Regions from separate parts of the Homo sapiens genome. Here all the other regions are linked to region 1. The links come from fine-mapping of genetic effects on plasma protein levels. A gene starts in region 1. Each other region holds a variant in brackets. All regions are shown on one strand. Distances are between the middles of the regions.

The links. PIP is the chance, under the fine-mapping model, that this variant and not a neighbour inherited with it causes the effect. The UK Biobank Pharma Proteomics Project read protein levels with antibody pairs (Olink). The fine-mapping took linkage between variants from a reference panel, not from the people measured, so its PIPs are less certain.
Region 2: its variant is fine-mapped to the plasma level of the VNN1 protein (UK Biobank, PIP 0.95).
Region 3: its variant is fine-mapped to the plasma level of the VNN1 protein (UK Biobank, PIP above 0.99). The variant lies in the coding sequence of VNN1. If it changes the protein, the assay may bind it differently, which can mimic a change of level.

The regions. Positions count from the first base shown.
Region 1 is chr6:132,709,075-132,717,261 of GRCh38, reverse strand. It overlaps VNN1 (vanin 1), which reads left to right and starts at 3,207. Exons shown (of 7, transcript NM_004666.3): 1 at 3,207-3,436; 2 at 5,423-5,553. The coding sequence starts at 3,227.
Region 2 is chr6:132,734,507-132,742,693 of GRCh38, reverse strand. It overlaps the pseudogene VNN3P. Among named protein-coding and RNA genes, the nearest start is that of VNN2, 19 kb to the left of the region's middle. The variant A/G (reference allele first, on the strand shown) is at 3,940.
Region 3 is chr6:132,688,109-132,696,295 of GRCh38, reverse strand. It overlaps VNN1 (vanin 1), which reads left to right. Exons shown (of 7, transcript NM_004666.3): 3 at 2,114-2,306; 4 at 2,981-3,272; 5 at 3,712-4,073. Among named protein-coding and RNA genes, the nearest start is that of VNN1, 22 kb to the left of the region's middle. The variant C/T (reference allele first, on the strand shown) is at 3,204.

The DNA of each region.
Region 1 (8,187 bases):
CTCCCAGTTCCATGTCCTGCTGATGATACTCTACTGCAAGAACTGCACTGTTTCTATTTCTATTTCTTTCTTTCTTTCTTTCTTTTTTTTGAGACGGAGTCTCACTCTATCACCAAGCTGGAGTGCAATGGCGCAATCTCGGCTCGAGGCAACCTCCGCCTCCCGGGTTCAAGCAATTTTCCTGCTTCAGCCTCCCGAGTATCTGGATTATAGGCGCCCCCGCCCCCCACACTGCTCCCTTCCATGCCCAGCTAATTTTTGTATTTTTAGTAGAGACAGGGTTTCTCCATGTTGGTCAGGCTCATCTCAAACTCCTGACCTTTGGTGATCCTCCCGTCTCGGCCTCACAAAGTGCTGGGATTATAGGCATGAGCCACCGCGCCTGGCCGAACTGCATTATTTCATCTGAAGATTTGCTCTCAGCTAGTACATGCTAAGTAGGCCAGAAAGGGTAGATTCATGTGGCAGTGACATGCTGGAGGAGGGACAAGGTTATTGGTCCTATGATTTAGTCTCAGTCTTTTAGTGAGCCTGTACCCCTGGGTTTATGAACTTCACTTGGCTTTTTTCTTCTGCCATTAGTTGGCATAAAAACAAGCTAGAGATGAGATTTTCCCTTTCCCCAAGTTAAAGATTAGAGTGGCTGGGGTTGGCATTTTTCCTTCCCCTAGGTAGGTTAGGCTCTGGTAAAATACTTTACTTTGAGGGCAGGCTTTTGTTAAGAAGAACAGACCAGAACTCTCAAGGTTGTCCACCCTGAGCCTCCACCAATTCGTCAATTACAGTTCAAGTGAACCCACGGTACTGGCGCCAGCCGCAGAGGACTCTGCTCGCAGTACACTCTTAACCTCTGTATCTGCCTATCTCTGCAGTTCTGAGGACCGCAGTTTATCCTGTGATCTCAATTCTCTGATGCATCCTAGAAAAGTTGTCGATTTTCATTTGTTTAGCTTTTTTCTTGGTGTGAGCATGGGAAAAATGACTGCCAAGCTCTTTATGAGTTGGACTAGAAACTCCACGGGAGGTTTAATATTTTTAATCTAAGAAGGTCAAGAAGTAATTTTTTAACCTCTTGCCAACTCATCTCAGTTTTAACTTTTATTTCAGTGCTTCCTTTTACAAATTGTTACATAATAATGACATCTTTTTGTGAAATATGTGGTATTCCCACCCACCTGGGCATGGAAAGGCCCTAAGAGGTCAGCAAGCAGTTAGAGAAGCTGGTGTTTACCGGAAACTCAGGAGAACCAGCCAACCACAACCCCTGGGTTACCTTGGCAATTGCAGAATAAATGCATTATAGTTACTAAAGTAAAAAATTAGATATGCCTGTTTGCAGATTGAACTATAAAAATACCATTCAAAGACAAATAGATCTAAAAATAAAATGGAAAAACATAAACACTAATTCTGTAAATATTATACTTAATGCACAACTGAAACAAAATTTGCCAGCTTACTCAATATCAAAATCTATGAACAGTTTTTCTATTTTATATAATTTCCCTCTCCTCTCTCTGGATCTCGCTCCCCAGCTCATTTTTTCTTTTTTTTGCTCTGATTCTTTATACACCTCTGTTGCCTCTGTGATAAGCAGCTTCAAAGATGGTTCCTAATGCTTTATTGGATAGAATACAACAAAAGCGATGAGGTGTTGCTTCCCCAATTACATTACGAAGCATCCGTGGCTTCCATCTCCAGTGGGTTCACTTGCTGTCTGGCTCTAAGGGAATCCAGATACCATAATGCGGGCTGCCCTATGGTGAGGTTTGCATCACTAGGAACTCATGTCTCTGGGCAACAACCAATGAGGTCTTGATCCCTGCCGTCAGCCACATGAGGGAGCTTGGAGCTCGGAAGTGAATCCTCCTGGAGTCAAGCCTTGATATAGCTAGCCCTGGCAGCTGCTTGACTGCAGCCTTGTGAAAGAGACCTTGGGCCAGAGGCACCAGCTAAACTGCCCCTGGATTCCTGACCCAGAGAAAGTGGGAGATGATGTATTTTTGCTTTTTGAAGCTGCTGAATTTGGGGATAATTTGTTATATAGCAATAGAAAATGAGTAACTCTTTTGTATTCCTCTTTGTCCTGGCTTCCCCATTTTGAGGAAAATAAAGTAAATCAAAGTGTAGAGCTGAAATATTCACATGAAAATAATAATAAAGTTTTAAAATTATTTGAATGTCTTGTGTTGACATTCCAAAATATATGAATTCCAAAAATTTATATGTTGAAGTCCTAACTGTCAGTATCTTAGAATGTAACTTTTTTGGAAAAGGGGTCATTTCAGATCTAATTAGTTAAGATGAAGTTATACTGGAGTACAGTGGGCACTAAATCGAATTGGTCCTATGATTGAGTCTCAGTCTTTCAGTGAGCCTGTACCCCTGGGTTTATGACCTTCAGTTGGCTTTTTTCTTCTGCCCTTATTTGGCATAAAAACAAAGCAGGTGGATCACCTGAGGTCAGCAATTTGAGACCAGCCTGCCCAACACGGCGAAACCCTATCTCTACTAAAAATACAAAAAATTAGCCTGGCGTGGTGGCGGGCGCCTGTAATCCCAGCTACTTGGGAGGCTGAGGCAGGAGAATCACATGAACCCGAGAGGCGGAGGTTGCAGTGAGCCGAGATTTCGCCACTGCACTCTAGCCTGGGTGACAAGAGTGAAACTCCATCTCAAACAACAACAACAATAAACAAACAACAACGATGACAAAAAAAGCTAGAGCTGGGATTTTCCCTTTCCCTGTGTTAAAGATTAGAGTGGTGTCCTCACAAAAAGGGAAAACTTGGATACAGGCACACACATGGGGAGAATAGCATATGAAGAGACACAGGGAGAAGGCAGCCATCTATGGGTCAAGGAGAGAGGCCTGGAACACATCTTTCCTTCACCGCCCTCAGGAGGAACCAACTCTGCTGACACCTTCATCTGGGACTCCCACCCTCCAGAACTGCAAAGCAATAAATTTTTTATTTTTTACACCACCCAGTTTATTGTATTTTGTTAGGCAGCCCTAGCGAACTAATGTACATAGAGTTCTTGAGTTAATCTTCACAAATTACTGCAATAAGGTAGGGTCTTTTGTTATGTAACAATGCTATGAAATCATAGCGTTTTCTTAATTAACTTCCGTAGTTTAAGGTACTAAGTTCTGGACACCACGTGTCTTCTTTCTATAAATACCAGGACATGCTCTGTTTTTCAGCACTCATTGGACTTCAGCATGACTACTCAGTTGCCAGCTTACGTGGCAATTTTGCTTTTCTATGTCTCAAGAGCCAGCTGCCAGGACACTTTCACTGCAGCTGTTTATGAGCATGCAGCGATATTGCCCAATGCCACCCTAACACCAGTGTCTCGTGAGGAGGCTTTGGCATTAATGAATCGGAATCTGGACATTTTGGAAGGAGCGATCACATCAGCAGCAGATCAGGTACCATCTCTACCATCTCTCCAGTGTACTGGATTCTATGAGAAAGGAGGGGGTCCTAGGAGACAGGGCCACTGTCAGGGTCAGTTACACTTTTAGATGATATATGTATCAGAGTAGCCAAGAACCTTTATTTTACAGTTAGAATTCTACTTTCCTCTCAAAATTAGAGCAAGGACTTCCCTAAAAGTAAGAACAAAGTTAAGAAAAGAACAATTTGCTCATTATCAAGAAGCAGCAGACCTTTGAGGAACTGGCCATAAATTCAACATCTTTGTTCCCCTTTTCTGGTACAGATGGAGGATGGAGGATAAATGGGTCAGGGACTAGGTGCTATTTTCAGAGTATTAGTGGCCTTCATGTACTCATGTGCTATTAAGGCTTTGCAGGTTTTCGAATAAATTTATAATCTGAAAACAAATTTAAGTTTTCAATTCCTTGCCAGCATGCATTATATACTTCACACTTCATTCTAATTACAAGATAAAAGTATATGTAATGCATTGTGAGTCCTTAAGTTTAGTGAAGGTTTCAGTTTGAAGTTAATCATACAGTATAAATTGTGGTTTACACAAATATTATTTTAAAAGCTATTGATCGATTAGGTGTAGACCAGGAATACATGAAGTGTGATAAAAGTCATGGATAAATGTGTATTACATATATCTATAAATATATATTCTTTTGTGTTGTTGAGTTAAGGTCTCACTCTGTCACCCAGGATGGAGTATAGTGGTGTGATCACGTCTCACTGCAGCCTTGACTTCCCGGGCTCAGGTGATTCTCCCACTACAGTCTCCAGAGTAGCTGGGACCACAGATGCATGCCACCGTGCCCAGCTAAGTTTTGTATTTTTTGTAGAGATGGGATTTTGCCATGTTGCCCACGCTGTACTTGAACTCCTGACCTCAGGTGATCCACCTGCCTTGGGCTCCCAAAGTGCTGGGATTACAGGCATGAGCTACCGTGACTGCCCTATATTCTTATATATACTAATATTTAAAAGGTTATCAGGAGTTCTGATGTTCTTTTTCATCCTTAGTCCAACTATTTCCTTGAAGGTCACAGAGCTTTTTAAGGTGACTCTCTAATTGGAAGGTGCCCAGGTTAGCTCAGGCAGTACTTGTAGGCATGGGACAGTTCAAGTAACCAGTTTGTGGCTCCTCTTTTTCTGAGAAGCAGGAATCATGTTTGCAGGGGAAAGCTAGGGCAGAGGAGGAAATAAACAGAATATTTAAGTTATTAATCAGTCTTGACACAGGCACAGTCATCAGCGAAAGTTCAAGGAGAGGCTTGGTTCCAGGATAAGCTAGGTTTATAGTTAACGACTGCCATAGGAAACAACAATGGCAGGATTAGAAAATTAAAATGCTTGACTAAGCCAGGTGCGGTGGCTCATGTCTGTAATTCCAACACTTTGGGAGGCTGAAGCAGGCGGATCACCTGAGGTTGGGAGTTCAAGACCATCCTGACCAATATGGAGAAACCCCATCTCTACTAAAAATACAAAAATTAGCCAGGCGTGGTGGCAGATGCCTGTGATCCTAGCTACTTATGAGGCTGAGGCGGGAGAATCGCTTGAACCCGGGAGGTGGAGATTGTGGTAAGCCGAGATCTAGCCATTGCACTCCAGCCTGGGCAGCAGAGCGAAACTCCATCTGAAAAAAAAAAAAAAGAGAGAAAAAAAAATGCTTGACTAGAAGCCCAAACCTCACCATTATGTAACATATCCATGCAACAAACCTGCATTTGTACCCTTTGAATCTAAAATTAGAAATAAAGAAAAGAAAAGAAAAAGAAAAAGAAGTGACAGTGCACTGAAAAAAAAGGAAATTAAAATGCTTTGGAAAAGAAAATAAATTATAAAAATATAGAAAACAAAATAAGATTTAAGGGGTGTGGGGGAAGCCCAAATAGTTGTTACTCAGCCACTCAGCTCCTCAGCTCCTCTTGCAGGCCCCCCTTTGGATTAAGTTGCATTTTTAACAGGGTGCGCATATTATTGTGACTCCAGAAGATGCTATTTATGGCTGGAACTTCAACAGGGACTCTCTCTACCCATATTTGGAGGACATCCCAGACCCTGAAGTAAACTGGATCCCCTGTAATAATCGTAACAGGTAAAGAAACAACTTGTGAAAAATTCACTAGTAAACATCAACTTGATTTACCTGGGAAAACTTTGTTGATGATCATTGCATAGATCCATGATCAATTCTTAAGTTTCAGTATAGCTTATTTTTCATCTACTATGGGTATATTTACTGGGAGAGCAAATATGAATTATGAAGTCACAGAAGTCAGAGCTAGAAAGTAGCTTAGAAATCATCACATTCAGTGTGAACATCTCTGGTCTCTGACTCCTCACCAGTGAACAGAAAAATATTTCCCTGTGTAGGTCTGTGATTTGAAAACTATATGAGTAAATGGCAAAAGAGAGTCACATCAGTTTAAGATTAATAGTTTTCCTTTCTCATTGCTAAGATAGCTGATGAGGTTAATGTAGTAAAGTCCTTAAAGTGTAAGCTGATTGTAATCTAAGAGGTGATATGGCAGGATTTTAAGTGGTTTAAGTCAGGTCTCGGCTACAGAGATATTAAGTGTGGTGAAAGCAGCACTATTAATTTTAATGTAAGGAAACCAATATCTTATACACCTAAGAAAATCATGTCGATTCACATACTTCTTTCTGAATACACATGGCTAAAATTATTTTAGGAATTCCTCTTTTGGAACTATTCTCAAAACCGCACAACGCCAGTTAGAATGGTGATCATTAAAAAGTCAGGAAACAACAGATGCTGGAGAGGATGTGGAGAAAGGGGAACTCTTTTACACTGTTGGTGGGAGTATAAATTAGTTCAACCATTGTGGAAGACAGTGTGGTGATTCCTCAAGGATCTAGAACCAGAAATACCATTTGACCCACCAATCCCATTACTGGGTATATACCAAAGGATCATAAATCATTTTACTATAAAGACACATGCATGCATATGTTTATTGCAGCACTGTTCACAATAGCAAAGACTTGGAACCAACCCAAATACCCATCAATGGTAGACTGGATAAAGAAAATGTGGCACATATATACCACAGAACACTACACAGCTGTAAAAAAGGATAAGTTCATGTCCTTTGCAGGGACATGGATAAAGCTGGAAACCATCATTCTCAGCAAACTAACACAGGAACAGAAAACAAAACACTGCATGTTCTCGCTCATAAGTGGGAGTTGAACAACGAGAATACATGGACACAAGGAGGGGAACATCACACACCGGGGCCTGTCGGGGAGTCGGGGGCTAAGGGAGGGATGGCATTAGGAGAAATACCTAATGTAGATGATGGGTTGGTGGGTGCAGCAAACCACCATGGCACGTGTATACCTATGTAACAAGCCTGCATGTTCTGCACATGTATCTCAGAACTTAAAGTATAATAATAATAATACTAAAATTAAAAATCCCACAGAAACTGGCTGGGTGTGGTGACTCATGCCTGTAATTCCAACACTTTGGGAGGCCGAGGCAGGAGGATCACCTGAGGTCAGGAGTTTGAGACCAGCCTGGCCAATTTGGCAAAACCCCATCTCTACTAAAAATACAAAAATTAGTGGGGCGTGGTGGTGGGCACCTATAATCCCAGCTACTTGGAAGGCTGAGGCAGGGAGAACTGCTTGAACCTGGGAGGCAGAGGTTGCAGTGAGCCAAGAGAGTGACACTGCACTCCAGCCTGGGTAACAGAGCTAGACTCTGTCTCAAAAACAAACAAACAAACAAACCCACAAAAACTACTTACAGAGACACCTTGATTTTGACAAGGTGGATTTTGATAAATTCCAGTGTTATTTATCATAATCATTTACTCTATTCTTATTTAATTGTACCATAATTATTTCTTATTTAATCATGTCATATGTCAGTGCTTCAGTTTCTAAAAGGCAAGCACTCTATTATCACTTCCACTATGAATTGAATTGACTTATTTCTGAATGGCCTTTCCCTAGAACCTCATCTCCAAGGGCCTCCTGAACATCCCCACAAGGATGTCCCATTCACTTCATTTCAAGGAACACGGTTGCCCATTTATGTTTTCCATCAACTAATGATGTCTGAATGTCTTGCCTTAATTCTCTCTGTCTCTCTCTCTCTTTTTTTTTTTTTTGAGAGAGAGACTCTGTGTCGCCCAAGCTGGAGTGCAGTGGCGTGATCTCAGCTCACTGCAACCTCTATCCCCCAGGTCCAAGCAATTCTTGTGCCTCAGCCTCCCGAAGATGACAAGTGTGAGCCACAACACCCAGCTAGTTTTTTGTATTTTCAGTAGAGATGGGTTTCACCATGTTGGCCAGGCTGGTCTTGAACTCCTGGCCTCAAGTGATCCACCTGCTCGGCCTCCCAAAGTGCTGGGATTACAGGTATGAGTCATCACGCCCAGCTGCCTTAATTTATTAACTCTGCAAATTTTTTTTGAGTACCTATTATGTCTAAACATTGTTCTGGGCAATGAAGTGAACAAAACAGATTAAAAATTCCTGTCCCCTTGAAATTTATATTCTAGTGTGGGGAGGTAATAAATGTTTTAAAAAGATAATTATCTATCTATCTATCATCTATCTATCATCTATCTATTATCTATCTACCTATCTTTATATAGGTATCTTTCATCTGTCTACCTATCTATGATATGAGGTGGAAGTAAATGTTATGGAAAAAATAAAGTGGGGAAGGTGAATAGGGTGGCAAGCGTGGGGC
Region 2 (8,187 bases), 25 kb before region 1:
ATGTTGATTGAAAATCAACAGCTGACGTTAAACAAACTGGTTTGAGTAAGATACAAGCAAGGAGCTCCTTTCACAGAAAGGGACAGTTCTGATTCAAGCTTGGAGCTCTCAGCTGTACCTCAGTTTGTTAAAAATAAAAACAAAAAACGAAAGCACCAAGTGCCAAGGAAATTAAAGAGCACTTAATGCTCTACTGTAAAATTGCCTGCACCACATTTTAACCCATCTCCACCGTGGTTTCTCACATACATTTTATTTTATCAAACAACCCAAGCATAGTTTCATTTGGCCTTTATATTTCTTTGATAACTATCTTTCATCCCATTTTATTTTATTTTTACTTATTTATTTATTTATTTTTTGAGATAGAGTCTCGCTCTGTTGCCCAGGCCGGAGTGCAGTGGTGCGATCTCGGCTCACTTCAAGCTCCGCCTCCCAGGTTCACGCCATTCTCCTGCCTCAGCCTCCTGAGTAGCTGGGACTACAGGCGCCCGCCACCACGCCTGGCTAATTTTTGTATTTTTAGTAGAGACGGGGTTTCACCATGTTAGCCAGGATGGTCTCGAACTCCTGACCTCATGATCCGCCCACCTCGGCCTCCCAAAGTGCTGGAATTACAGGCGTGAGCCACCGCGCCCGGCCTCATCCCATTCTAAAATTTCATGTTAGTTCTTGAGTCCCTTGTGGTTCTGGAGATAGTAAACAAAGCTCTTATTTTCTCCTATTTGGCTTTCATTAGGCTTTTTTCCTGAAATGCTCTTTTACAACTTCCTGGTTACAGCCCCCTGTATTACAAAGTCACATGCTCAGCAGCAGCCTTCTCTCAGGGCTCACTACCTAGCCTTCCTTCATTCATTCAGGAAGCATTGATCACTTACTATATCCCAAGCACTAAGTACTGAGACAGTGGTCTATGCATTCTCTTTGCTCCCTTTGCCACTCTGTGACATTGCCCCCTTTGATATGATCTATTTCCATAATTTCTATGATATGCTCACAACCTGCTTTGCAACTACACTGCCCCTACTTTCTACTTTCTTTGCATTTTGACCTGTCCTCATAGTGTTGGCTCATTGCTCTGTACAGGTGATTTCTGTCAGCATTCTTTCTGTTTTGGCCTCTTTCCTAAATTCTTTTTACATTTCTAACTCCATTCTGACCATCATTCCAAGATAGTCCATGGGTGATAATGTTCTAAAAGATATCTGAGGCTGGATGCCTGCTTAGGTCAATATGGTTATTATACCCACACCCACACTCACATGCTTACACTGAGCCACACGCAGCTACTTCCAATGAAAGCATTCCTGAGAAGACATTTGGACAAAGAAACAGGGACAACTGTGAAGAGGATTTCTTGAGTATGTAAATAAGACAGAAAGTACTTGGAATGGGAAAGAAAACATGCCTGTAATCCTGGTACTTTGGGAAGCTGAGGAAGGAGGATTGCTTGAGCTCAGGAGTTCAAGACCAGCCTGAGCAACATGGTAAAACCCTGTCTGTACCAAAAATACAAAAAGCCAGCCAGGTGTGGTGGTGTGTGTCTGTGTTCTCAGCTACTCGGGAGGCTGAAGTGGGAGGATCACTTGAGCCTCTGAGGTCAAGACTGCAGTGAGCTGTGATCACGCCGCTACACTCCAGCCTGGACAAAAGAGCAAGATCTTGTGTCCAAAAAAAAAAAAAAAAATCAACGATTTATTTGAGAATTTCTAGACCACGTGAAGCTAAGTCAAAGGAGAAAAATAATGAGAGTGAACTGACTAATTTCAATTTACCTGTCTTCAAGAATTCTGTGACATCTTATATTGTTTGAATATGGATTGAACAACCCTGCTAAAAGCTTTGATCAGTTATGTTATAAACCTTTGCTTCCCTGTTCTGTTTCATTTTGCATTTCAGAAATTAATTTTAAAAATACTGCACATCTACTACCATCTGATCTTTGACAAACTGGACAAAAACAAGCAATGGGGAAAGTATTCCCTATTTAATAAATGGTGCTGGGAAAACTGGCTAGCCACAGGCAGAAAATGGAAACTGGACCCCTTCCTTACACCTTATACAAAAATTAACTGAAGATGGATTAACGACTTAGATGTAAAACCCAAAACTATAAAAACCTTAGAAGAAAATCTAGACAATATCATTCAGGACATAGGCACAAACAAAGATTTCATGACAAAAACACCAAAAGCAATTGCAACAAAAGCAAAAAATGACAAGTGGAATCTAATTAAACTGAAGAGCTTCTGCACAGCAAATGAAACTATCATCAGAGTGAACAGACAAACTACAGAAAGGGAGAAAATTTTTGCAATCTATCCTTCTGACAAAGATTCAATATCCAAGAATCTACAAGGAACTTAAACAAAAATTTTGCAATCTATCCACCTGACAAAGGCCCAATATCCAGAATCTACAAGGAACTTCTTTTCCACAAGAAAAAAAACAAACAACCCCATTAAAAAGTGGGCAAAGGGCATGAACAGACACTTCTCGAAAGAAGACATTTATGCAGCTAACAATCACATAAAAAAAAAAAAAAACTTAGCTGGGCATGGTGGCTCATGCGTGTAATCCCAGCACTTTGGAGGCTGAGGCGTGCTAGTGCTATGATCAATACAAGGACCAGAAATGGATCAATTCTACCTTGGAAGACCAGAAGGATGTCACAGACAAGCAGAATAAGATAATCAGGGCATTCTCAATAGAGTTAGTCATGCATGCAAAGACATGGAAGTATGCTTCAAGCAGTGTTTAATGTATTACGGAGGAAGAGGATGCAAGGAGGAAGGATAAGGACAGACGATGTAAAAAATAAGACTAGAGAGATAGTCCAGAGTCAGTGTTGAAACACAAATGAAGTCTAGACTTTATCCAGAAGCTGAGAGAAAGACACATTGAAGAGTTTTAGAGTCAAGTAGCCATGAGGGACTAAACAGTTTAAAAACTAGATAAATTTGATGGCTTTTTGAAGGATGGAGTGGAGAAAGAAGTTCTAAAGGCAGAGTGGCCAGGAAGGAGCCAGTTGCAGCAGTCCCCTCAGGGTAGTGGAGACAGTACAGGGACATGCTTGAGGAACAGCAAAGAAGTCAATGCAACTGGAGCCGAGTGAACATGGGAAAAGTAGTAGGAATTGTTAGAAGTGACAGCTTATAGTGGTTTTTTTAGGCATTGTAAGAACTTGGCCTTTTACTCTGAGTAAAATCGAATGCCACTGATAGGTTTTTTTGTTTGTTTATTTGTTTGTTTGTTTTTTGAGATGGAGTTTCACTCTTGTTGCCCAGGCTGGAGTGCAATGGTGCAATCTTGGCTCACTGCAACCTCTGTCTCCCGGGTTCAAGTGATTCTCCTGCCTCAGCCTCCTGAGTAGCTGGGATTACAGGTGCATGCCACTGTGCTCAGCCAATTTTGTATTTTTAGTAGAGACGGGGTTTCTCCATGTTGGTCAGGCTGGTCTCAAACTCCTGACCTCAGGTGATCTGACCGCCTTGGCTTCCCAAAGTGCTGGGATTACAGGTGTGAGTCACTGCACCCAGGCCATTGATAGGTTTTGAGCAGAGGAATGATATGATTAGTCTTATATTTTGATAGAATGGCTCTGATTGTTGTTGTGCAAAAGTAGAAGTAGTGGTACAAAAACCAGGTGCAAGGGTTTGGGAATAATCCAGACTAGTGATAATGACGGCTTGGACCACAGTTGGTGTAGTAAAAGACCACTTGCTTGAACGTGTGTAGAGTGAGAGAGACAGAAAGAAGTAAGGGTGACTCCAAGGGTTTTGGCCGGAACAAAAGGGAGATGAGAGAAGCCGTTAATTGAGATCTGAAAGACTGCTGGTGAAAGAGCATCAGGAGCAGAAGGTCAGGAGCTCAGTTTTGTTCATGTTGATCAGATAAGCCTTCATACAGTCAAGTGGAGATTTTGAGTAGACTGTTGCC[A/G]GATATAAGAGTCTAGAGTTCTCAAGAGAGGTTTGAGGTAGATATATAAATCTGTGAGTCACTAATATTAAATATATAGATGGTATTTAAAGAGATGAAATGGATGTAATCACCTAGGAAGTGAGTGTAGATAGGAACAGAAGACTTCCAAAGGTTGGGCTCCAGGGTGCACCAGTGTTGCCAAGTCAGGGATGATGAGTAGAAACCAGAAGAAAAAGTCCAAAGAAACAAAACAAAGTAAACAAATACAAAAACTAAGAAGAAAGAAAGAGGAAAACTAAAAGGGTGTGAAGAAGAAAGTACATTAAGAATGGGATAATGGCAGCTTTGTCAAGTACTACCAAGACATTGAGTAAGATGACATTGAGAATTGACCATCAGACTTAGTAATAGGGAGATTAATGGGAACTGGACAAGGCAGTGAAGTCATGGGGGTAAAATCCTGTCCATTGGGAGGACAGGAATTGAGGCAAGGAGTACATACCATCGTGGAAAGGAATTTTGTTATAAAATAAAGCTGAGAAATGGAGCAGGAATTGGAAGGGGATGTCAGATCAAAAGGCTTTTTTTTTTAAGATAGAAAATGTTACAGGATAGTTGTAGAATATATAATAGGATATTTGTGTTTTCTTTATTGTATCCAATAGAGAAAGAAAAATTGATGATAAACAGTAATGGGGCTGGGCACGGTGGCTCATGCCTATAATCCCAGCACTTTGGGAGGCCGAGGTGGGTGGATCACTTGAGGTCAGGAGTTCTACACTAGACTGGCTAACATGGTGAAACCCTGTTTCTACTGAAAATACAAAAATCAGCCAGGCATGGTGATGTGCGCCTGAAAGCCCAGCTACTCGGGAGGCTGAGGGAGGAGAATTGCTTGAACCTGGGAGACGGAGGTTGCAGTGAGCCAAGATTGGGCCACTGCACTCCAGCCTGGGTGATGGAGCAAGATTCCATCTCAAAAAAAAAAAAAAAAAGGCCGAGCATTGGTGGTTCACGCCTATAATCCCAGCACTTTGAGAGGCCGAGGTGAGCAGATCACTTGAGGCCAGGAGTTTGAGACCACCCTGGCCAACATGATAAAACTCCATCTCTGCTAAAAATACAAAAATTAGCCAGGTGTGGGGGGCAGATGCCTGTAATCCCAGATACTTGGGAGGCTGAGGCAGGAGGATCTTTTGAACCTGGGAAGTGGAGGTTGCAGTGAGCCAAGATTATACCACTACACTCCAGCCTGGGTGGCAGAGTGAGACCCTGTCTCAAAAACAAACAAACAAAAAAATAAACAAAGTAAGAGAGAAGAACTTCTAGAGCAATGTCCTTGGGATCCAGTGCTCAAAGATAGGGGCTAGACTTAAGTAGGGTCAAGAGGAGTCATTTACAGTAAGGATGGGGGGAGGCAGAATTTACAGGTACAAATGGCTGGCAGGTGGGTTGATACTTGGTGGGAGCTTGTGGAAAGGAGTTCTTTTGAGTTGGATAAATAGGCCTGAAGTTCAGAACGGAAGTTTGAGCTAAAGATAGAGACACAGTCATTATCCTTTTGTAGAAGATAGTTGAAGGTATGAAGTAGAAAAAAACCTGGGGCCAGGGGAGAGGGTAGAGTAAGGGACTGAAAGACAGTGAACAACAATGTGGCTACTGGCCATAAGTGCATTAAGAGTTTAGAGAAGGGAATAGCAACAAGACTGGAGAGGCAATGGATTTGAGCTCGAAAGGCAGGATTTGGTCAGAATCATTCCAGGATCAGAGCAACAGTGATCATGTTACAATAAGAAGAGTACTTTTAGCTAAGAACACAAAATATAAAATGGAACCAAGAGAAAGAAGGCTCTTACTGTCTGCTTTGATTCAATATATGCATGGGAAGTATCTTAATTAATGACAGCAATGGTCAAGGGAACTCTAATGGATTACAGTATTGAGGGTTAGGGTGGGAGGAGTGGGATCAGAGAGGCTGATGGAGAGCCTGAAAGAATTCTTATTTATGGGGTCAGGAACTTGATAAGGAGAATGGAGAGGAGGTTTTACAATGAGTTTAGAAATAAAGATTTGGGGAAAGCCAGTAAACTCTTAGATATTTTATTACAGCACCTCTCCTTTAAGATGTGTCCCTTACATATTTAAAAGAAGAATTATATTTATTGTAATACAAAACTTCTGACTCTAAACTTCTTAATCCTACAATAATGCCAGACTGTCATAAGGATTATGTACCAATACAGTGTTTCAAATAACTCATAGCTGCACGCCTTATACACCTAGGAAGCAAAGACATTACTAACAACATTGGGTAATCAAATATTTAACTCAAGTTTCTATTGATTTCAACACACAAAAAAAGCTGGTACATTTCCTGGAACTAGGGGCTGGGAGAATGAAGGGGAATTCCCATATGTTTCCTTTTGATTCTATTCAGAAAGTCAGGTGAACCAAGAAAAGAGTTAGAATTTCAACTTGAAATATGAAAATTATTTTCTTCTCATCCCAGATCAATCCATCTGTTTTACATAGTTTCCCTCTTCTCCTCAGAAATTTTTTTGGAAAAGAACTTATGTCTGATGTCTGATGAAAACAATTTATGTCAGACATAAACTCAGAATTTAGGGCTGAATTTATGTTCATATGTCCTTATTTCCTGAAATGGTATCAGGGCATAAGGACATATGGAAACACTGTGGGGTATCTGGGAGCAGAAATATTTGGATAATGGAAAAGTTTATTGAAACCAAGGGACTTTGAATTATAGAAACAAACCAAACCCAAAATAGACACAAATCTCCATAACTTACAATTTTCCTTAGATCTTAGAAAGAATCTCAAGAGGGAGAAGCAGTGTTAATTGTTCTAGAATCAGAGATTTAAACCTTAAAAAAAATTCTACATTTTAAATTAACTGATATTCAAACAAGGAGATTCAATCCAAAATTGGGCGAGGGAAGTGAATTTAACTAATCAAAAAACATTTACAGAGCTTAGCACAGTATAAAATTCTATAGAAGCAGCAGAGAATTATAATGTGACCCTGCCCTTAAGGGACTTATAAGGATGATATGTTTAAAAAATAAAAGAATTAAAGGAGAACTTAACACTTTTTGAATTATTGATTAGTCTTCATATGGAAGCGGGTTTAAACTGTAGAAGACAGGTAAAGTAAATTGCATCTCAATAACAAGAATGTTCTTAAAATTGGCAATGTTCAAAGGTGGAATAGACTGGCCCATCAGGTAGTAGATTCCGTCATTCAACATTCATTCATATATTGAGCTTTCACCATCTGTCACACATGTGCTGGGGTGATGAGGTTCAACAGTGAGCAGGACACTTCCCTTACCCTCCAGGGGCCACATCCCAGGATACATCATCTCTGTCTAGATGTTTATTGGACATGGATGTTCTGAAAGAAAACAGCAAGTTTCTTTTTAATCTCTTTAAGAAGACAAAACATACATATATAATATTAAGTATTGGTATAATATTTAAATTAAAGGTCAAGACAACAGCAAGGAGTGAGAGACATTCAGCAGCACAGAAAAAAATGCTATAGGAGTTCAGAAATATCACTTAGGACTGGAGTGGATTTGGGAGGACTCTAGGGGGAGCTGGAACTTAGACGGATGGAGAACAAGGGCTTTTCAAATAGAAATGGCCATACAAATATGTAAGTAGAGTGCTCAACAAATTGTTGCTATGATGACTACCTTCCAATATTGGCCCTATTAATAGAAATGTTGGCTTACCAGGAAAATTTTTTTTTATTAGAAAAGACTTCAACTGCCAGTGTGTTTTGGACTGGGGTGAATTCATCTGGTTGGCTCAATCTTTTAGTGTTGACTTGACTCTGAACAATGTCAACAACTGCACTGTACACTTGAATCAATCCAATTACGTCCTGGCTGTCAGTTTTCTTGCACAACATCCTTTCTCAATGCTGTGTTGTGTAATATATGTGCAAGAAAATATAAACAGCTGATTGCCAGGAGGGATTTAATGTAAAGTTTTTCCAGTGAAACAAAACGTAAGAATCTGAGTTTGTTTTTCAAAGATCACTAAATTTTAGTTATGATTATATCACATTTTCCAAAATGTGTGGCAGTTTTTGCCCTCCTTGCTCTGAGTGTTGGTGCACTGGACACTTTTATTGCTGCAGTATATGAGCATGCGGTGATATTACCAAACAGAACAGAAACACCTGTTTCAAAAGAAGAAGCTTTGCTCCTGATGAACAAGAACATAGATGTTTTGGAG
Region 3 (8,187 bases), 21 kb after region 1:
TGTTGTTCTGCAGACTCAATAATTTCAATGGTCCTGTCTTCCAGTTCACTGTTTCTTTTTTCTACATGCCTGAATTGGTCTTCGAATCCTCCTATAAAATATTCATTTCAGTTATTGTAATTTTCAGCTCCAGATTCTTTTTAGGTTTTCTATCTTTTTATTGATATTTCTACTTTGTTTTGTTTTTTGATTTTCTCCACATCTTCCTTTATTTTCTTAAGCTTCTGTAAAACCATTGTTTTAAAGTCTGTGTTTAGTAGGTCTGTCATGTGGTCCTTTTCAGGGATGATTTTCGTTGGTTTATTTTTCCTTTCTTTTGAGTGAGTCATACTTTCCTGTTTCTTTGTATGATTTGTGATTTTTTTGGTTGATAACTAGACATTTGAATCTTATCACATGGTTACTCTGGGAATCAGATTCTCTGGGTTTGCTATGTTTGTTTGTTTGTTTGTTTTGTTGTTGTAGGATGTTTGTGTTGAGGATCAGCTTGAGATGTAAATTTAAGGTCTTCTTAGACCTTTTATGAGTCTGTACCTTTCCCTGGGCATGTATGGCGACTTTCTAAATTTCCCTGTATATTTAATTGCTTATTCCTTAAATGTCTCACTATCCAAAGGAGAAAAAGAGAAAATAAATAAATAAATAAGACACTGGTTCTTTAAATCTCCTGGAAGCCACTTCAGCCAGAAAGAGGGCCTGCAAAAATGGTGTGTCTGTATGTATACACAACAATAGCTGCTTGCCTTTGCATTTGTACCTCCATGATCAGAAGCAACAATTAGTGATCAGAATGCAGATCTCGTATATTTGAAAGACAAGGTCATTATTGTCCACCCTGCTCCCATAAGCTGCCTGCAAGCTGCTTTAGGAACACAGACATGGCAGCCTGTCACAGGGACAGGGGATGAGGAATTGGTAACCACTATTGAGCTAAGAGCTAAAATGGACTGAAATTAACTGTAAGTTACCTTCCAAGCATTCTTCTGGAAGTTGCAAGCACTAGAGCTCCAAAATAGTAATATTAGACAGATTCCAACAGTGCAATTGTTATCTAGGTGGGGAGAAAAATTCCCTGCTCTGCTATCTTCCCAGCATCCCTCTACCTCTAAATTTTTGTTAACTCATTCAAAAAAATTTTTTTTTGAGATGGAGTCTCACTCTTGTTGCCTAGGATGGAGTGCAATGGCATGATCTCAGCTCACCACAACCTCTGCCTCCCAAGATCAAGCAATTCTCCCACCTCAGCCTCTTGAGTAGCTGGGATTATAGGCGCACGCCACCAGGCCCAGCTAATTTTGTATTTTTAGTAGAGACGGGGTTTCTTCATGTTGGTCTGGCTGGTCTCGAACTCCTGACCTCAGCTGATCCACCCACCTCGGCCTCCCAAAATGTTGGGATTACAGGCATGAGCTACCACACCTGGCCCCCCAAAATTTGTTTTTTGAGACAGGGTTTTGCTCTGTTGCCCAGGTTGGAATGCAGTGGAACTCACTGTAGCCTCAAAATCCCAAGTTCAAGCAATCATCCCACCTCAGTCTCCCAAATATCTGAGACTACAGGCACACACCACTATGCCTGGCTATTTTTTTTTTTTTTCATTTTTTGTAGAGAGACAGTCTTGCTTTGTTGCCCAGGCTGGTCTCAAACTCCTGGGCTCAAGCAATCCTTCCTCCTTGGACTCCCAAAGTGCTGGAATTACAGGCATGAGCAACCACACCCACCCCAAGATATTTTTTAATGCCTCTCTTCTGTTAGACAAAATTTTAGTAAACGGGATATGTAAGTCATTGATCTATGATATCCACAGGATGCTGCAGACATTATAAGACAAACACGTAAGTGAAAATATGACTATAGATTACGATAAATGCTATGAAGAAAAAATACGTGGTCTGGAATCTTATCCTACAGTAGGTTCCTACAACCAATTTTACTCAAGCATGGGCTTCCTCTGAACTCCTTTCTTGTCTTAATACTTCTCTTCTAATTATTGTTATTTAGAATTTACTTTTGCATATATCAAATAATAGGTTTAGGCAACTATCATTCAGGATTTTGTTGAGAGTTAAGATTGATTTACAAAGATTTTTTTCCTCCAATAAACATGTATCAGATTTGGCCAGACCCCAGTACAAGAAAGACTCAGCTGCCTGGCCAAGAACAACTCTATCTATGTTGTGGCAAATATTGGGGACAAGAAGCCATGCGATACCAGTGATCCTCAGTGTCCCCCTGATGGCCGTTACCAATACAACACTGATGTGGTATTTGATTCTCAAGGAAAACTGGTGGCACGCTACCATAAGGTAAAATTAATTTGCAAATAATCCAATTAGTTAATGCCTAATGAAATAAAGTGGGCAAGGAGAAAAATATGTTATTGATAATGATAAGCACACTTTAGAAATCGAGTAGGGGCAAAGCATAGAAAGTAATGATAAAGCGTGGAAAGCTCCTATAAAGAGGCTTAAGGGGTTCCGTGTACATATAAGAACACAGGAGTGTGTTTTCAGGAGTGTGTAGCAGTCAGAAAGTGCCGCATGCATTATGTTGCCTAATGTTGCCTTTTGGACTTTGTCCTTTTAAAGGCATACCCTGGCAATGGGTCAAGGCTAGAATGAAAAACTGCTTACCACATAGACTCTGTCTTGAGGAGAATGGAACAAACAAAGTTCCTTGCCAAGGAAAACAGTTAAGTCTACTTGGCAAACAGAAGTAATCTATTTTATGTCTTATAAGATTCCAGTGGGTCTTTATAGATAAAGATACCCATGTACATATTTGTAATGTGGAGACTGAACTAAAGGCCCAGTTTAGCTAGAATGGCCTCTGATTCTCTAAAGCAAACTCATTTCCCATGAAAACACTGATCATAGATGAAATTGGCACTAAGATGTGAGCTTGTACTTTTTCCCACACTGTGATGTCCAGATCAACTTCCTAAAATAATTTTTTTCTCTTTATCTTCTGTTTATTGCAGCAAAACCTTTTCATGGGTGAAAATCAATTCAATGTACCCAAGGAGCCTGAGATTGTGACTTTCAATACCACCTTTGGAAGTTTTGGCATTTTCACATGCTTTGATATACTCTTCCATGATCCTGCTGTTACCTTGGTGAAAGATTTCCACGTGGACACCATAGTATTCCCAACAGCTTGGATGAATGTTTTGCCACATTTGTCAGCTGTTGAATTCCACTCAG[C/T]TTGGGCTATGGGCATGAGGGTCAATTTCCTTGCATCCAACATACATTACCCCTCAAAGAAAATGACAGGTAATGTGTGATCTTAAAGATATGCAGGCTGATGTAATCAGAAAAGAAAAGAAAAAAAAAACATGTTTTTCTAGCTAACGCATACTCCTTAATACAATGTTTTCCAGCTCTTAATTTTTGAACATCTAGCTGTTAATATGCTATAGAATCAATCTCAGTCTAAATTGTTTTGTAGATTTATTTGGTTTTATTTAACTTGATTTTTTTTTCAAAATATATGACTTCTTACATACAACTCTCCCTTCTTGGCTTCTTGGTTTCATACTTTAATTGATTTCCTCTCACTTCTCTGTCTTTATCAGCATGTTTTACTGAAATTAATAAAACATATAACTTAGAGAGAGTAAAATGTGAATATGAGGTTAAAATAGTAATAACAATTATGAAATCCCTTTTTACTTTCCAATTTCAAATGATGTTTTCAACTTATTACTTCCAGGAAGTGGCATCTATGCACCCAATTCTTCAAGAGCATTTCATTATGATATGAAGACAGAAGAGGGAAAACTCCTCCTCTCGCAACTGGATTCCCACCCATCCCATTCTGCAGTGGTGAACTGGACTTCCTATGCCAGCAGTATAGAAGCGCTCTCATCAGGAAACAAGGAATTTAAAGGCACTGTCTTTTTCGATGAATTCACTTTTGTGAAGCTCACAGGAGTTGCAGGAAATTATACAGTTTGTCAGAAAGATCTCTGCTGTCATTTAAGCTACAAAATGTCTGAGAACATACCAAATGAAGTGTACGCTCTAGGGGCATTTGACGGACTGCACACTGTGGAAGGGCGCTATTATCTACAGGTAATATTTTGATGTCAGAAGAGTTACTGGATAAAATAAAGACACTCAGTTAAATATACAGTTTAGATAAATAATGAATGATTTTTTAGTATAAGCATATCACACTTTTGGGGATTTATGTATGCTAAAAATTTTGTTGTTTATTTGAAATTCAACTTTAGCTGGGAAGCCTACAAATACAGGCTAAATTTATTTGCTAAATCTTTTTTTTTTTTTTTTGAGACAGAGTCTCACTCTGTAGCCCAAGCTGGAGTGCAGTGGTGCATCAGCTCACTGCAAGCTCTGCCTCCTCGGCCAAGCAATTCTCACGCCTCAGCCTCCCAAGTAGCTGGGACTACAGGCGAGTGCCACCATGCCTGGCTAATTTTTTTGTTGTTGTTGTATTTTAGTAGAGACAGAGTTTCACCATATTGGCCAGGGTGGTCTCAAACTCCCCGAGCTCAGGTGATCCGCCCACCTCAGCCTCCCAAAGTGTTGAGATTATAGGCATGAGCCACCGTGCCCTGCCTATTTGCTAAACCTTGAAACCTTAGATGTCAGTTCAATTTTAAGCTGATTGGGAAAAGGCAGGACATTTACTTGCAGTAGCAGTATTAAAAATAAATATTCAAATTACAGATCATTATAACAGGAGTTCATTGAAAACCCATTTTATTTCCTGCCTGAACAAATTAAGCCATTTTCCTTATATGTTCACAAATGCCTATCTTGCTTTATAAAGAGTTTGACACTAAGTATATCCTGGATATGAATGGGGTTGACCACCAAGATAGTTCAATGGAATGGTTTATTGCTGCAAAGATCCAATCTCTCATTGCTCGCAAGTGGCCTCCATGGTCCTCTCATTCTTCTCTTCTCTTCCTTGGTCTGGCCCCCATCTTATCTCACTTAACAGGGCTTCCTATTGACAGTCTGACAATCTCAGCTCCATCCAGTCAGTTCTCCATATTGTAGTTACAGAAATCACAAAAAGCTGTTTTTGATTATAATACTGTCTGGCTTAAAATTCTTCACTGACTTCTAATTGACAAATCAAATTTCTTAACATGAAAGACACACAAAGTCTAGATGTGTGGTCCCTTCCTATTCTCTATCCTCTAATCTCACTTCTACTTACAAATATCCTGGGCTTCTGCAATATTGAAATATTTTCCCATCTCCTATTTGCTAGCATATGCAGAACCTCAAGGTGTTTGCACAGATTGTTTGGTCCTTTATCCGTGGCGAGCCCCACCTACTAATCTTTCATAGCACTTTTCTGGTGTTATCGTCACCAAGAGGGGTTCCTGGATATTTCCCACAGAGCTACTCCTACCTCTCCAGATGAGTTAAGTACATCCTTTATGTGCTCCCAGGACACCCTATGCTTAGCTTTATCAAAGACATATTATGTCATAGTATTCACTTACTTATTTGAGACTGAGAACCCCTTGAGTGCTGAAATTATGCCAACTGCACAGTATTTTGTTTGCTCTATGATAACTACCCTAACAATACTTTTTCGTTTTAGCAAATGAAGGCCTACTATATGCCAGGTATTTATTTAGTGTTAATGATATGAAGATAAATAAGCATAGATCCTCCTCTTGAAGAATTCAGTCTTTAGTAATGGAGAAAGACATTTGAACAGATAATTTCAGCATAGGTTGGCATGTGATTGTCCGTAGAATGCACATTTTGCTGGAGGAGTACTAAAGAGCTCTACTTAGATTAATTTGGGAATGCAGGGAAGTTTCTGGAGCTGATGCTATTATCCAGGTGAAAAAGAGTAGGAGGGGATTCTTTGTGGTGTGAAGAGCATGAACAAGGGTGTGGATGCAGGCAGGAGCAGGGTCTGCAGGGAACAGCAACAGGTCAGTGCTACTAAGGCAACTGAGGCATGGCTTGCGAAGCTGGGTTTGGTGGGAAATAAGCCTGGAAGCAACATCCTGTCCTGCAGGATCTTACCTAGCACACTTAAGATTCAGCCTTTATTCTGTGGGTGATGGTCAGCTGGTGGAAGTGGTCCAGTGAAGGAATGATGTGGTCAGATCTACCTTTGAATATATCATTTTTACTACTCTGTAGATGATGGAGCAAAGACCCAAAAGACTAGATTATTAAAATAGTCTTATTAAGGGTCTGGACCAAGACTGTGTTTGTTGGAATAAAAGCAGGGCATGGAGTCTAGACATATTTAGAAAATGGAACTCAGTGGCCAATTTGATGTGGAACAGGAAAACGGAATGGAGAGTCCAGAATGTGGCAGATTTCTGGCAAGAATGGCTGGGTGGGTGAGATGCATCTGACAGATCAGGAGGCAAGAGAGGAGCAGACTCACTGACAGTGGGTAGAGGCTGAGTTCAGTTATAGATGTGCTGGTTTTGAAGTAGTTATGAGACATTCAGCTGGACCCAGCCAGTTGTCTGTTGAATACTTTGGTCTGATGCTTAAGGGAGATACTAGAATTAGAAATATTGTTTCAAAAATCAGCAAGATACAAGGGGCAATTAAGCAAACAACAGTGAATGATACGACAAAGGAGACTGTACTGACAGTAAAGAACTATTGACAAAGTAGAACCTTTGGGAGCTTCGGTATTTGGGGCAGGAAAGGACAGAGGACAAGAAACCTGCAAATACAATTAAGAAATAAAGGAAAATTTAAAAAGAGAACATCTGGTAGATGCCAAGGAAGTAGAGACTCTTGGAGGAAAGAAATCATGAGGTGTATTAACACAATACGTTGACCATTATTAGCATTTTTGAGTATAATTTTGGCAGAATTTTCTGAGCTCATAATGATAGGATGATGGGCAGATTATATTGGGTTGAAAAGTCAAAGGGAAGTGAATGCACTTTTTTCCCCAAGAAATCTTATCTGAGACAAGAAGAAGAGAAGCAAGACAATGGTTTAACAGAGACTCATGGTCAGGAGAAATGTGTGTGTATGTGTGTATGTGTGTGTGTGTGTTTCTCAACAAACGAGAGAGCCTTGATTGCCTTTGTAGGTCTAAGAGAAAGAGCTACAAAAGGAAAAAATACATAAAATATGAGAGGAATCAGGTCCAGTGCAGTGGCCTGTAATCCCAGCACTTTGGGAGGTCAAGGCGGGCAGATCATCTGAGATCAGGAGTTTGTGACCCCTGTCCAACATGGTGAAACCTGTCTCTACTAAAAATACAAAAATTAGCCAGGCATGGTGGCAGGCGCCTGCAATCCCAGCTACTTGGAAGGCTGAGACAGGAGAATTGCTTGATCCTGGGAGATAGAGGTTGCAGTGAGCTGAAATTGTGCCACTGCACTCCAGCCTAGGCAACAGAGTGAGACTCTGTCTCAAAATAAAATAAAATATACAAGGAATCATTACTCCTACTCAGTGTTCCAAGGTGCTGGAGGAAAGAGGGAAAAATAGTATCATGAACACAGGTACAAAATGTCCAACAACTGGAAATTAAATGAATCATATTGTAGAAGAACATTTATTGCCATAAAATTATTACCATATACCATATGTTATATTAACATATATAGCCTTATATATGTGACATTCATATGGTATTATATTGCTATATAAATTTTTAAAATTAAAATATAAATTGTGATGTATTATTTTTAAGTTAAAAAAAGTTGGTCACAAAACAAGAGAGTAATCTCTTAGCTCTTCTTCCCTCCTTTTCCTTCCTGCCTCCTCAATCTTTTCCTACCTTTTTACCTCCTCCAGAGTCTTGGCTCTACCTAAAGAGAGTTGTGGGAAGTTCTTTCTTAGTGTTGTGAGGTAGGTTAGCTTTGTCAAGTAAAACCAAGCTTTCTGTTTATCTTGCTAGACGGTGATATTTCATCTAAACGATTGGTACCAGATATGTTTTGGAATCTTCCTATTTAAAGATAATAATACATATTACTTGATATTACCAGCAGAGTCTGGGAAAATACCCAGAATCAAACATATTAATATATCTATTGGAAAACATGGGATTATTCACCTTAAATAGCTTGAATAAAAATGTTATAGCCTTATGTTAATTCAAGTTAGGTCTTAATGCCAATGTGCCAGTGGGTTACAAAAATCCTTTATTTTCAGAAGATTTTGGATTTTTGTATTGAAGATAAGGAATTTTGGTATAATATTATAT